Regions from separate parts of the Homo sapiens genome. Here region 2 is linked to region 1. Evidence: fine-mapped expression QTL. A gene starts in region 1. The other region holds a variant in brackets. All regions are shown on one strand. Distances are between the middles of the regions.

What was found. PIP is the estimated chance that this variant, and not a neighbour inherited with it, causes the effect. A credible set is the group of variants that fine-mapping cannot tell apart.
Region 2: its variant is the best candidate, but not a certain one, in a credible set for the expression of PITHD1 in whole blood (TOPMed, PIP 0.59).

The regions. Positions count from the first base shown.
Region 1 is chr1:23,775,862-23,781,238 of GRCh38, forward strand. It overlaps PITHD1 (PITH domain containing 1), which reads left to right and starts at 2,557. Exons shown (of 6, transcript NM_020362.5): 1 at 2,557-2,852; 2 at 3,577-3,620; 3 at 4,003-4,080. The coding sequence starts at 2,655. ELOA-AS1 (ELOA antisense RNA 1) reads right to left here and starts at 2,436. Exons shown (of 4, transcript NR_038280.1): 1 at 2,338-2,436. RefSeq lists enhancers at 1,281-2,233, 3,487-4,686 and silencers at 2,487-2,796, 2,887-2,936.
Region 2 is chr1:23,703,443-23,708,819 of GRCh38, forward strand. No RefSeq gene overlaps it. Among named protein-coding and RNA genes, the nearest start is that of RPL11, 14 kb to the left of the region's middle. The variant A/C (reference allele first, on the strand shown) is at 2,276.

The DNA.
Region 1 (5,377 bases):
TTGGAGATAACAGTAGGTAATAGCACCTAGCTCTCTTTTTTTTTTTTTTGAGATGGAGTCTCGCTCTGTCGCTCAGGCTGGAGTGCAGTGGCACAATCTCGGCTCACTGCAACCTCTGCCTCCTGGGTTCAAGCGATTCTCCTGCCTCAGCCTCCCGAGTAGCTGGGATTACAGGCACACGCTACGATGCCTGGCTAATTTTTCTATTTTTAGTAGAGACGGGGTTTCACCATGCTGGCCAGGCTGGTCTCAAACTCCTGACCTCAAGTGATCTACCCGCCTCGGCCTCCCAAAGTGTTACAGGTGTGAGCCACCACACCTGGCTGTACCTAGCTCTTAAAGTTCATGTGACAATTAATTGAGATGAACTACATAATGTGCTTAGCACACAGTGCTCAAATAAATCATTAATGAAGGCAACAGGAAAAAGCCAAAATGAGTAGATCTCCGGGGTAAGGCCTGAGTTGGTTCTTCAAAAGGACACTCTTACCAAAGAAAGGCTACCAAGTATATCAGTCAAGTAAACATTTACTGTTTGCCACATTCCAGGTCCCTTACCTGAAACTGTGACCTAAAAGCAGGAATAATTCACGGCACTGAGCTATTTTGAAACAGAACCAAGCTTGCTTATTGCACAAGTAACTAAAATAGGACATCAAAATATTTTTCTTGTTTTTATTTTTTTGAGACAGTCTTGCTCTGACACCCAGGTTGGAGTGCAGTGGTATGATTACAGCTCACTACAGCCTCACCCTCCCAGGCTCAGGAGATCCTTCCACTTCAGCCTCCCAAATAGCTGGGACCACAGGCATGAGCCACCATGCTGGGCTAATATTTTTAATTATTTTTGTAAAGATGGGGTCTCCCTATGTTGCCCAGGCTAGTCTCAAACTCCTGGGCTCAAGTGATCCTCCCACCTTGGCCTCCCAAAAGTGCTGAGATTACAGGCATGAGGCACTGCATGTGGCCCAGAAAATATTTCTGAATGGAACTTGAAAAAATGGATATTTTGGTCTATACTTCACCAGCCCCACTGAGCACTCCAGAGCCAGATGTGAAGGGAAGAGGGTAGCCAGGGTATCCCATAACTCTCTTTCTGTATCCTGTCTTTTCCCCACCAGGGAGTAGGAAAACATTCTATCCTGAAAACAAGATTATTTCACCTCTAAACAGTGACTTTTAATTATTTTGATCTCAACCCACAATATGAAAAACACATCATATTGTGTCTGAATACAAACTCAAAACTGAAACAAAAGTTTCATCAATTGAGACTTGAAATGTGTGATACATTCTGGGTTTTTTTTTTTTTGTATTCTATTTTTTTTTTAAATGTTGATCACAATTCTCTATAAACGGATTTTAAAACCTATTGACAGGCCACAACCAGCTGTTCGAAAAAAAGTACTTTGAAATATCACATGGGGGAGGAAACGCAGAGATCATCTAGTCCAATCCCTTCACTTCACAGGGGGTAAACTGAGTCTCAGAAGATCAAGTCACTTGCCCAAGGCCACGCAGCTAGTAAGTTGCTGTGGTTGGATTTGACCGTAATAACCATCGGCTACTGAATGCCCATCATGTGTCAGCCATTTGCTGAGTTTTTTCTTTTTTTTTCTTTTTGAGACAGAGTCTTGCTCTGTCGCCAGGCTGGAGTGCAGTGGCGCGATGTCGGCTCACTGCAACCTCTGCCTCCCGGGTTCAAGCGATTCTCCTGCTTCAGCCTCCCGAGTAGCTGGGACTACAGGCTCGCGCCACCACGCCTAGCTAATTTTTGTATTTTTAGTAGAGACGGGGTTTCATCATGTTGGCTAGGATGGTCTCGATCTTTTGACCTCGTGATCCGCCCGCCTCGGCCTCCCAAAGTGCTGGGATTACAGGCGTGAGCCACCGCGCCCGGCCTGCTGAGTTCTTTAATTGCATTATTTCATTTAATACTCACTGTGATCCTATGAAACAGATACTATTCTTTCCACCTTACAGACGGGGAAACGGAGTCTCAGAATAGGGGAAATGACTTAAGGTGTCACAATGGCCAGTAGCAGACCCAGGAGTAGTCTTTAGGTCTGGCCGTGCACAAAGCCCCATGCTCTCAAGCTGTAACCCCGCTATCAAGAAAGTGGTTATGCAAGTGGGCCTGTGAGCTCTCAACGTCTAAGCCGTGCGCATGTGAGACAGCGATAAGCTCGCGTTCTCCAGTCTCCAGGGCCTTATCATTCCTCACGCTTTCCTTCATCGGCTCGCAAAGAAACGTGGCGATCAAGGAAGACAGCGAAGGCTCCATCCTCGTCGGGGGAGGATAATTCGAATCTCAGCCTGTGAGTTTACTCAGCACACCTGTTTAATCTCTTGGTCCTTCAGTTTCCACACCTAGGAAGCTGGAACAGCAGCAGCATCCAGCGCCAGGACTGGAGTCATATACGAACTCTGGCACCTGGGAGGCGCGCGTCCTACGTCAGTTCCGCTCGACCCCACCCCCCCCGCCCCCCCGCCTTCTCCCCACGCGCATGCGCCGCGCAGCGGCGCTTTTTACGACGCGGCAGGCGCGGCGCGCTTAGTTGCCGGAGCTGAACGGCGCGGAGCTGGTCTGAGGCGAGCCGAGCCGAGCGAGCGCGGCGGTGGGGCCGAGAGGACGCGCAGGTGGCGGCGTTGCCATGTCGCACGGTCACAGCCACGGCGGGGGTGGCTGCCGCTGCGCCGCCGAACGGGAGGAGCCGCCCGAGCAGCGCGGCCTGGCCTACGGCCTGTACCTGCGCATCGACCTGGAGCGGCTGCAATGCCTTAACGAGAGCCGCGAGGGCAGCGGCCGCGGCGTCTTCAAGCCGTGGGAGGAGCGGACCGACCGCTCCAAGGTGGGCCGCCTGGGGCTTGGGGCGGGCGGGGCAGGGTGCGTGTGGGGCCTCGGGCCGTCGGTCTACTCATTTCTGATGTTAAGAATAACGACAGCCTGGTTGCCAAGCGCTTTTCCGTGCCTGTCTCCTGCCAGCTCTTTGGGAGGCGAGCAGCGTTGTCTCCCCATTTTGCATATAGGGAAACTGAGGCCTAGAGGGAACGGGGACAGTTTTGTCAAGCTACACAGCCTAACGCTCTATTCCAGGGCTGTGTGGGCTAGAGAGGATGGTCGTGAGGGCCGTTGGACCATTGGTGCTAATGGCTGCCTCATCATATTACCTGGTGAAGATGAGCCTAGGGAGATGAAAGGTGGTTCCCATATAGAGCAAATGTTCTTTACATTGTGGGGTCGCAGGCCCCTTTGCTATCTGTTTGAAAGCAGTGGACCTTCTTCTCAGAAAAATGCACATAAACACCTGCCTTTCAGTTCACACTTCAGAAGGCTCTTCGACCCTGGAAATTCATTCATGGGCTTTTTGTTAAGAACCTTCCAGTTGGGTGGCCTGTGGCTGTTATGACACTGGATAAGACTGGTTAGCTTCAAGTTAATAAGTCTTGGAAAACCAAGGGAGAGTGACTCTTCCCATTGCACCCCAGTTGTAGAGCAGGGTGGGAGATGCCTGAAATTGTAGGCTCTCAGCAAATATTTGTTGCTTTCTCCTCCCCCCTCCCCATCCCCTCCAGTTTGTTGAAAGTGATGCAGATGAAGAGCTTCTGTTTAATATTCCGTAAGTATCTCCTTGGTGCCTACCTCAGGCTAAATAGGCTGTACCCAGTTGCCTCAGATGGATTCATTCACTGGTGTCAAGAGCACACATTTGCTTCTAGAAATGGGATAAATTACTTTGGTGGGTTTGAGGAGGAAAGCATCATAGCTTTCTTGGTGCAGACTGGAAACAGATGTATTTGTAGAACAATAACTGAGAAATTGAGGTAGATTTCTTAGAATTGTAGAATGCTAGAGGTAGACAGGATCTTAGAAATTATCTAGTACAAGTTGACAGATGAGTAAACTGAAGCCCATACAGGGGAAGGGTCTTGCCCAGGGTCACACAACTAAACAGGTATTCAAACTCAGGTTTGACAACCTTCTCTTTTGCATTCTGGCAGATTTACGGGCAATGTCAAGCTCAAAGGCATCATTATAATGGGAGAGGATGATGACTCACACCCCTCTGAGATGAGACTGTAAGTGGCAAAGGCTTAGGCCCTCAAAGGAGCTCCTAATTCTCTTTTTCTGGTAACATTTTATTCCAGAATAGTATCATTTTCTTCTTACCGGGTTTAATATTTCCCCTTTTAAAATATCTTGGTCCTGTTCTCATTCTGCATTGGAATACATATATTTCTTCCTGAATTAATGACTTTTTTAGATTAAGCATCTTTAGGCCCAACAGCGTGTCTCATATTTCAAAGTGCTTACTATGACATGATTCATTCAGAGAGCATTGTGTAAATGTCACTTGTTGATGACTCTGCAGTTTTCTTAATAACTAGCTGCAGATCTCATATGATCTTTATGGATTCTAGGGGTTAGCTTCAACATTTTTCCTTGCTATTTCATACAGTAATGATCTTATGTGTTTTGTTGACATGGAATTGCTCCACCTGACTTTGCGTGGCATTTAGTTAGCAAAGTTGTGTATACCTCTTGCAACACTGAATCTTTTGCCACCAGAGCTAGTACCCTTTTTGACAACTTACCTTATTCCAGAACAGCCTTCCTAAAAGAAGGGGAAAACTGCTTTCTGAGTGCTGGAGAAACATATAAGAAGAACTTTACATTTAAAAAATTCAGTCCGGGTGCAGTAGCTTATCTCACAAAACCAATAAAAGATGATATATAGGCTGGGCACAGTGGCTTACACTTGTAATCCCAGCACTTTGGGAGGCTGAGGCGGGCGGATCACCTGAGGTTCGAGACCAGCCTGGCCAACCTGGTAAAACCCCGTCTCTACTAAAAAAACAAAAATTAGCTGGGCCTGGTGGTGCGTGCCTGTAATCCCAGCTACTAGGGAGGGTGAGGCAGGAGAATTGCTTGAACCTGGGAGGCGGAGGTTGCAGCGAGCCGAGATCTCGCCACTGCACTCCAGCCTGGATGACAGAATGAGACCCCATCTCAAAAGTAATAATAAAAACAAATAAATAAAAAATTCAAATCCTAAAGGCCGAGCATGGTGGTTCACACCTGTAATCCCAGCACTTTGGGATGCCGAGACTGGTTAGGAGTTCAAGACCAGCCTGACCAAGATGCTGAAACCCCGTCTCTACTAAAAATACAAAAATTAGCCGGGCATGGTGGCACACGCCTGTAATCCCAGCTACTTGGGAGGCTGAGGCAGGAGAATCGCTTGAACCCAGGTGGCAGAGGTTGCAGTGAGCCAGGATCGTGCCACTGCACTCCAGTCTGGGTGACAGAGCAAGACTCCATCTCAAAAGAAAAAAATAATTCAAATCCCAGCACTTTGGGAGGCCGAGGCGGGCG
Region 2 (5,377 bases), 72 kb before region 1:
TGCCTGTAATCCCAGCTACTTGGAAGGCTGAGGCAGGAGAATCGCTTGAACCCGGGAGGCGGAGGTTGCAGTGCACTGAGGTTGTGCCGTTGCACTCCAGCCTGGGCAACAAGAGCCAAACTCCCATCTCAAAACCATATATATAATATAAATAATATAATATATAATATATACAATATAAATATATATAGTATAATATATAATATACATATTAATATATAATATATAAATATATAAATACATATATAATATATAAATATATATTACATAAATACATATGTAATATATAAATATATATTACATAAATACATATATAATATATAAATATATATTACATAAATACATATATAATATATAAATATATATTATATAAATACATATATAATATATAAATATATATTATATAAATACATATATAATATATAAATATATATTATATAAATACATATATAAAAATATATATAAATACATATATAATATATACACAGATTCCTGAACTCTTCTCAGAAACTTGGTTTTTGTAGGGCTCAAGAATTCACATTCTTACAACACTGAAGGTTGAGAATCATTGTTTTCTCAACAGCAGTGGCTTTCAAAGGTTTTTGACTACAGTTCACAGTAAAAAAAAAAAAATCCCTTCAGAGTAGCGGAAGGGCAAAAAATGTATTTTGTATATCACTACATACATATATACTCACCTCTGGAAAAAGCTTCATGAAACAACCTTACTACAGGTAATGCAGTCCTATTGTATAGTTGTTTACTTTTTTTTCCTAATGCTGATCTCTCTCTCTCTCTTATTTATTTATTTATTTTTTTGTTTGTTTGTTTTTAGACAAGGTCTTGCTTTGTTGTCCAGGCAGGAATGCAGTGGTGTGATCTCAGCTCACTGCAACCTCTGCCTCCCAGGTTCAAGCGATTTTCCTGCCTCAGTTTCCTTAGTTGGGACTACAGGTGTGCATCACCACGCCCGGCTAATTTTTGTAATTTTAGTCGGGTTTTCAGCATGTTGGCCAGTCTGGTCTTGAACTCCTGATCTCAAGTGATCTGCCCGCCTTGGCCTCCCAAAGTGCTGGGATTACAGGTGTGAGCCACAGTGCCCGGCCCCTAATGCTGATTCTAACCCATTGTATTAGTCTGTTTTCACACTGCTATAAAGAACTACCTGAGACTGGGTAATTAAGAAAAAGAGATTTTAATTGACTCATAGTTCCGCATGGCTGGGGAGGCATCAGGAAACTTAAAATTATGGTGGAAGGGGAAGCAAGGCATGTCTTACAGGGTGGCAGGCGAGAGAGAGCACAAAGGGTGAAGTTTTAAACCATCAGATCTCTGAGAACTCTATCACGAGAACAGCATGGAGGAAACCACCCCCATGATCCAGTCACCTCTCACCAGGTCCCTCCCTCCACACGTGGGGATTACAATTTGAGATGAGATTTGGGTGGGGCACAGGGCCAAATCATATCACCTATTAAGGAGCTTGTTTTTTGTGACAGGGACTTGTTCTGTCACCCAGGCTGGAGTGCAGTGGTGTGTTCACAGCTCACTGTAACCTCTAACTGGGCTCAAGTGAGCCTGCCTTGGCTTCCCAAGGTGCTGGAATTATAGGCATGAGCCACTACGCCCAGCCCAGTAAGTAGATTTTAATCCGCAATTTGAAAAACGCTGCAGTGTGTGATGTGTTGATCAAGTTTCAACCACAGAGGCAGAAGTTCTGAGCTAGAAGAGCCCTCAGAGGTCATTTAATCCACCAGTCCTTAAGCCTTGCACAGTACTGGGCTGGGTATAGGAGAATCACCTGAGATATTTGTTTAAAATGTGCATTCCAGGCCCCAACTCCCGAGAACTTAAAATGGAACAAAGGACTCTGTTTAAAGTTTAACGAGCTTCCTAGGTGAGTTGTATGCACAGCCAGATTTGGGAGTTCTCCAATGCAACCCTTACCAGTAAAGGCCCTCCAGAATGGTGGAGGGTTTGAATTTGCCTCTGCTGTGTGGAGGGCAGGCTTTCTCAGTTTGAAGTAACACCTTCAGGTTACTTAGGAAATACAATTATTTACCTGATACTTTGTTTAAAAGTTATAAAAGAACTCTGTTACTACTGAATTTGCAGGTTTGACATGTTTATTGTATTACTTTCTAGTATACTAAAATAAAGATGTAACTGTTTAAAAAATGTGACTGGCTGGGTGTTGTGGCTCATTTGGAAGGATTGCATGAAGCCAGAAGTTTGAGACCAGCCTGGGCAACATAGCAAGACCCCCCATTGCTAC[A/C]TATTTTTTTATCTAAATTAGCCGGCTGGGTGAGGTGGCTCACGCCTGTAATCCCAGCACTTTGGAAGGCTGAGGCAGGTGGGTCACCTGAGGTCAGGAGTTTGAGACCAGCCTGACAAATATGGTGAAACCCCGCCTCTAATGAAAATACAAAAATTAGCGGGGTGTTGGCAGGTGCCCGTAATCCCAGCTGCTTGGGAGGCTGAGACAGGAGAATCGCTTGAACCCGGGAGGCAGAGGTTGCAGTGAGCCGAGATTGTGCCATTGCACTCCAGCCTGGGTAACAGAGTGAGATTCCATTTCAAACAAACAAAAATTAAAAATAGGCCGGGCGTGGTGGCTCACGCCTGTAATCCCAGCACTTTGGGAGGCCGAGGCAGGCAGATCACAAGGTCAAGAGATCAAGACCAACCTGGCGAACATGGTGAAACCCCATCTCTACTAAAAATACAAAAAAATTAGCTAGGCGTGGTGGGCGCCTGTAGTCCCAGCTACTCAGGAGGCTGGGGCAGGAGAATAACTTGAACCCGGGAGGCAGAGGTTGCAGTGAGCCAAGATTGCGCCACTGCACTCCAGCCTGGGTGACAGAGTGAGACTCTGTCTCAAAAAATTAAAAATAAAAATAAAAATTAGCCAGGTGTAGTGGTGCATGTCTTTGGTCCCAGCTACTTGGGAGGCTGAGGCAGGAGGATTGCTTGATCTCAGGAGTTGAAGGCTGCAGTGAGCTGTGATCACACCACTGCACTTCATCCTGGGTAAGAGTGGGACACCTGTGTCTTAAAAAAAATAAAATAAAAAGGCCAGGCACGGTGGCTCACGCCTGTAATCCCAGCACTTTGGGAGGCTGAGGCAGGTGGACTGCTTGAGCTCAGGAGACCAGCTTGGGCAACATCAGTGAAACCCTGTTTCTACCACAAAAATTAGCCAGGCAGAGGCCGGGCATGGTGGCTCATGCCTGTAATCTCAGCACTTTGGGAGGCCGAGACGGGAGGATCATCTGAGGTCGGGAGTTCGAGACCAGCCTGACCAACATGGAGAAACTCCATCTCTACTAAAAAAAAATACAAAATTAGCCGAGCGTGGTGGCACATGCCTGTAATCCCAGCTACTAGGGAGGCTGAGGCAGGAGAATCGCTTGAACCCGGGAGGCGGAGGTTGCGGTGAGCTGAGATTGCGCCATTGCACTCCAGCCTGGGCAACAAGAGCGAAAACTCCATCTCAAAAAAAAAAAAAATTAGCCAGGCATGGTGGCGGGTACCTATAGTCCCAACTACTGCAGGAGAATTGCTTGAACCTGGGAGGCAGAGGTTGCAGTGAGCCAAGATCACACCACTGCACTCCAGCCTGGGAGACAGAGCAAGCAAGCCTTTGTCTCAAAAAAAAAAGAGAAAAAACAAAAAGAAAAATTTTTTAAAAGTGTGTCCACGGCCGGGCGCGCTGGCTCATGCCTGTAATCCCAGCACTTTGGGAGGCCGAGGCGGGCAGATCACCAGATCAGGAGATCGAGACCACCCTGGCTAACACGGTGAAACCCCGTCTGTACTAAAAATACAAAAAAAAATTAGCCGGGCGTGGCGGCGGGCGCCTGTAGTCCCAGCTACTCGGGAGGCTGAGGCAGGAGAATGGTGTGAACCTGGGAGGCGGAGCTTGCAGTGAGCCGAGATCGCACCACTGCACTCCAGCCTGGGTGACAGCGCGAGACTCCATCTCAAAAACAAAACAAAAGTGTGTCCACTAAAGTCACTTATCCAGTAACTTTTTTTTGAGCGTCTACCATGTGCTGGGCACTGTTTAAGGGGCATAGGATACATCAGTGAACAAAGACAAAGATCCCTGCCTTGGAGCTTACATTCTAATGGAGGGAGACAGACAATAAGCAATCCACGAGTAAATTACAGAGAATGTTATAGGATGGTATGTGTGTTGGGAAAAGAAAAAGTAGAGTGGGGTGAGGGGGTGAGGAAAGGCTGGTCAGAGGAGGCCTCACTGAGAAGATGAGATTTGAAGTGGGTAAGGGTTGGGCACTTGGATCTGTGAGGAGGAGCTTTTGGAGAGATGGAAGACTAGAGCAAAGGCCTTCAGGCAGAGGTGCGTTATAGCACTGAGCCCACTACAGCCAGGCAGTGTGAGAGGGCAAGAGGAGGAGGGGGTCAGAGATGATGGGCAGCCGCTGTGCAGGCTGTGTAGGGTGTTAGAAAGACTATGGCCTTTACTGGGAGCGAAATGAATCACTCCTTGCTAGGTTGGCAGAGGCATCACATGATCTGACTTCCATTTTAAAACTGTAACTGCATATTAAAAACAGAATATGGGGGGTAAGGGTGGAAGCAGGAAGACTTATCAGAAAGTATTGTCAGCTCAGTGCTCTTGTGCAACTGTAGTCCTATCTGCTTGGGAGGCTGAGGCAGGAAGATGGCTTGAGCCCGGGAGGTTGAGGCCAGGCATTCATGCTGGTCCAGACGTCGTGGCAGCATTGGAGGTGGTGAGACATGGGCAGATGATAGATACATCTTGAAGGTAAACCAGCAAGATTTCCATGGACAACTGGATGAAAGATAAGAGAGAAAGTGAAGTTGAGAATGACTCAAGTTTCTGGCCCCTAGCAAAAGAAGTATGGAGTTGCTGTTAATTTCGATGGAGAAGGTAGCATGGAACAGATTTGACAGTTAGGAATTCCATTTTGAACATGCGTAACTTAAAATCTATCATCTAAAGGAAGATGTTGAGTAGGCATTCTGGAGGCTGGTCTGCAGATATCTGTTTGGAGGTCTTCAGCATAGGGAGGTCCGTATTTACAGTCTTGAGACTGGATGAAGTCATAGGGGAGTGAGTATGACAGAAAGGGAAAAGGACCCAGGACTGAACCTTAGGGTACTTAAGCATTAAGAGGCCTGAGAGGCGGCCGGGCACAGTGTCTCACACCTGTAATCCCAGCACTTTGGGAGGCCAAAGTGCGAGGATTGCTTGAGGCCAGGCATTCGAGACCAGCCTGGGCAACATAGCAAAGCCTCATAGTGAGTCTCTATTAAAATTGTTTTAAAAAAACTAGCCAGGCATGGTGGTGCATACCTGTAGTCCTAGCCACTTGGGAGGCCAAGACAG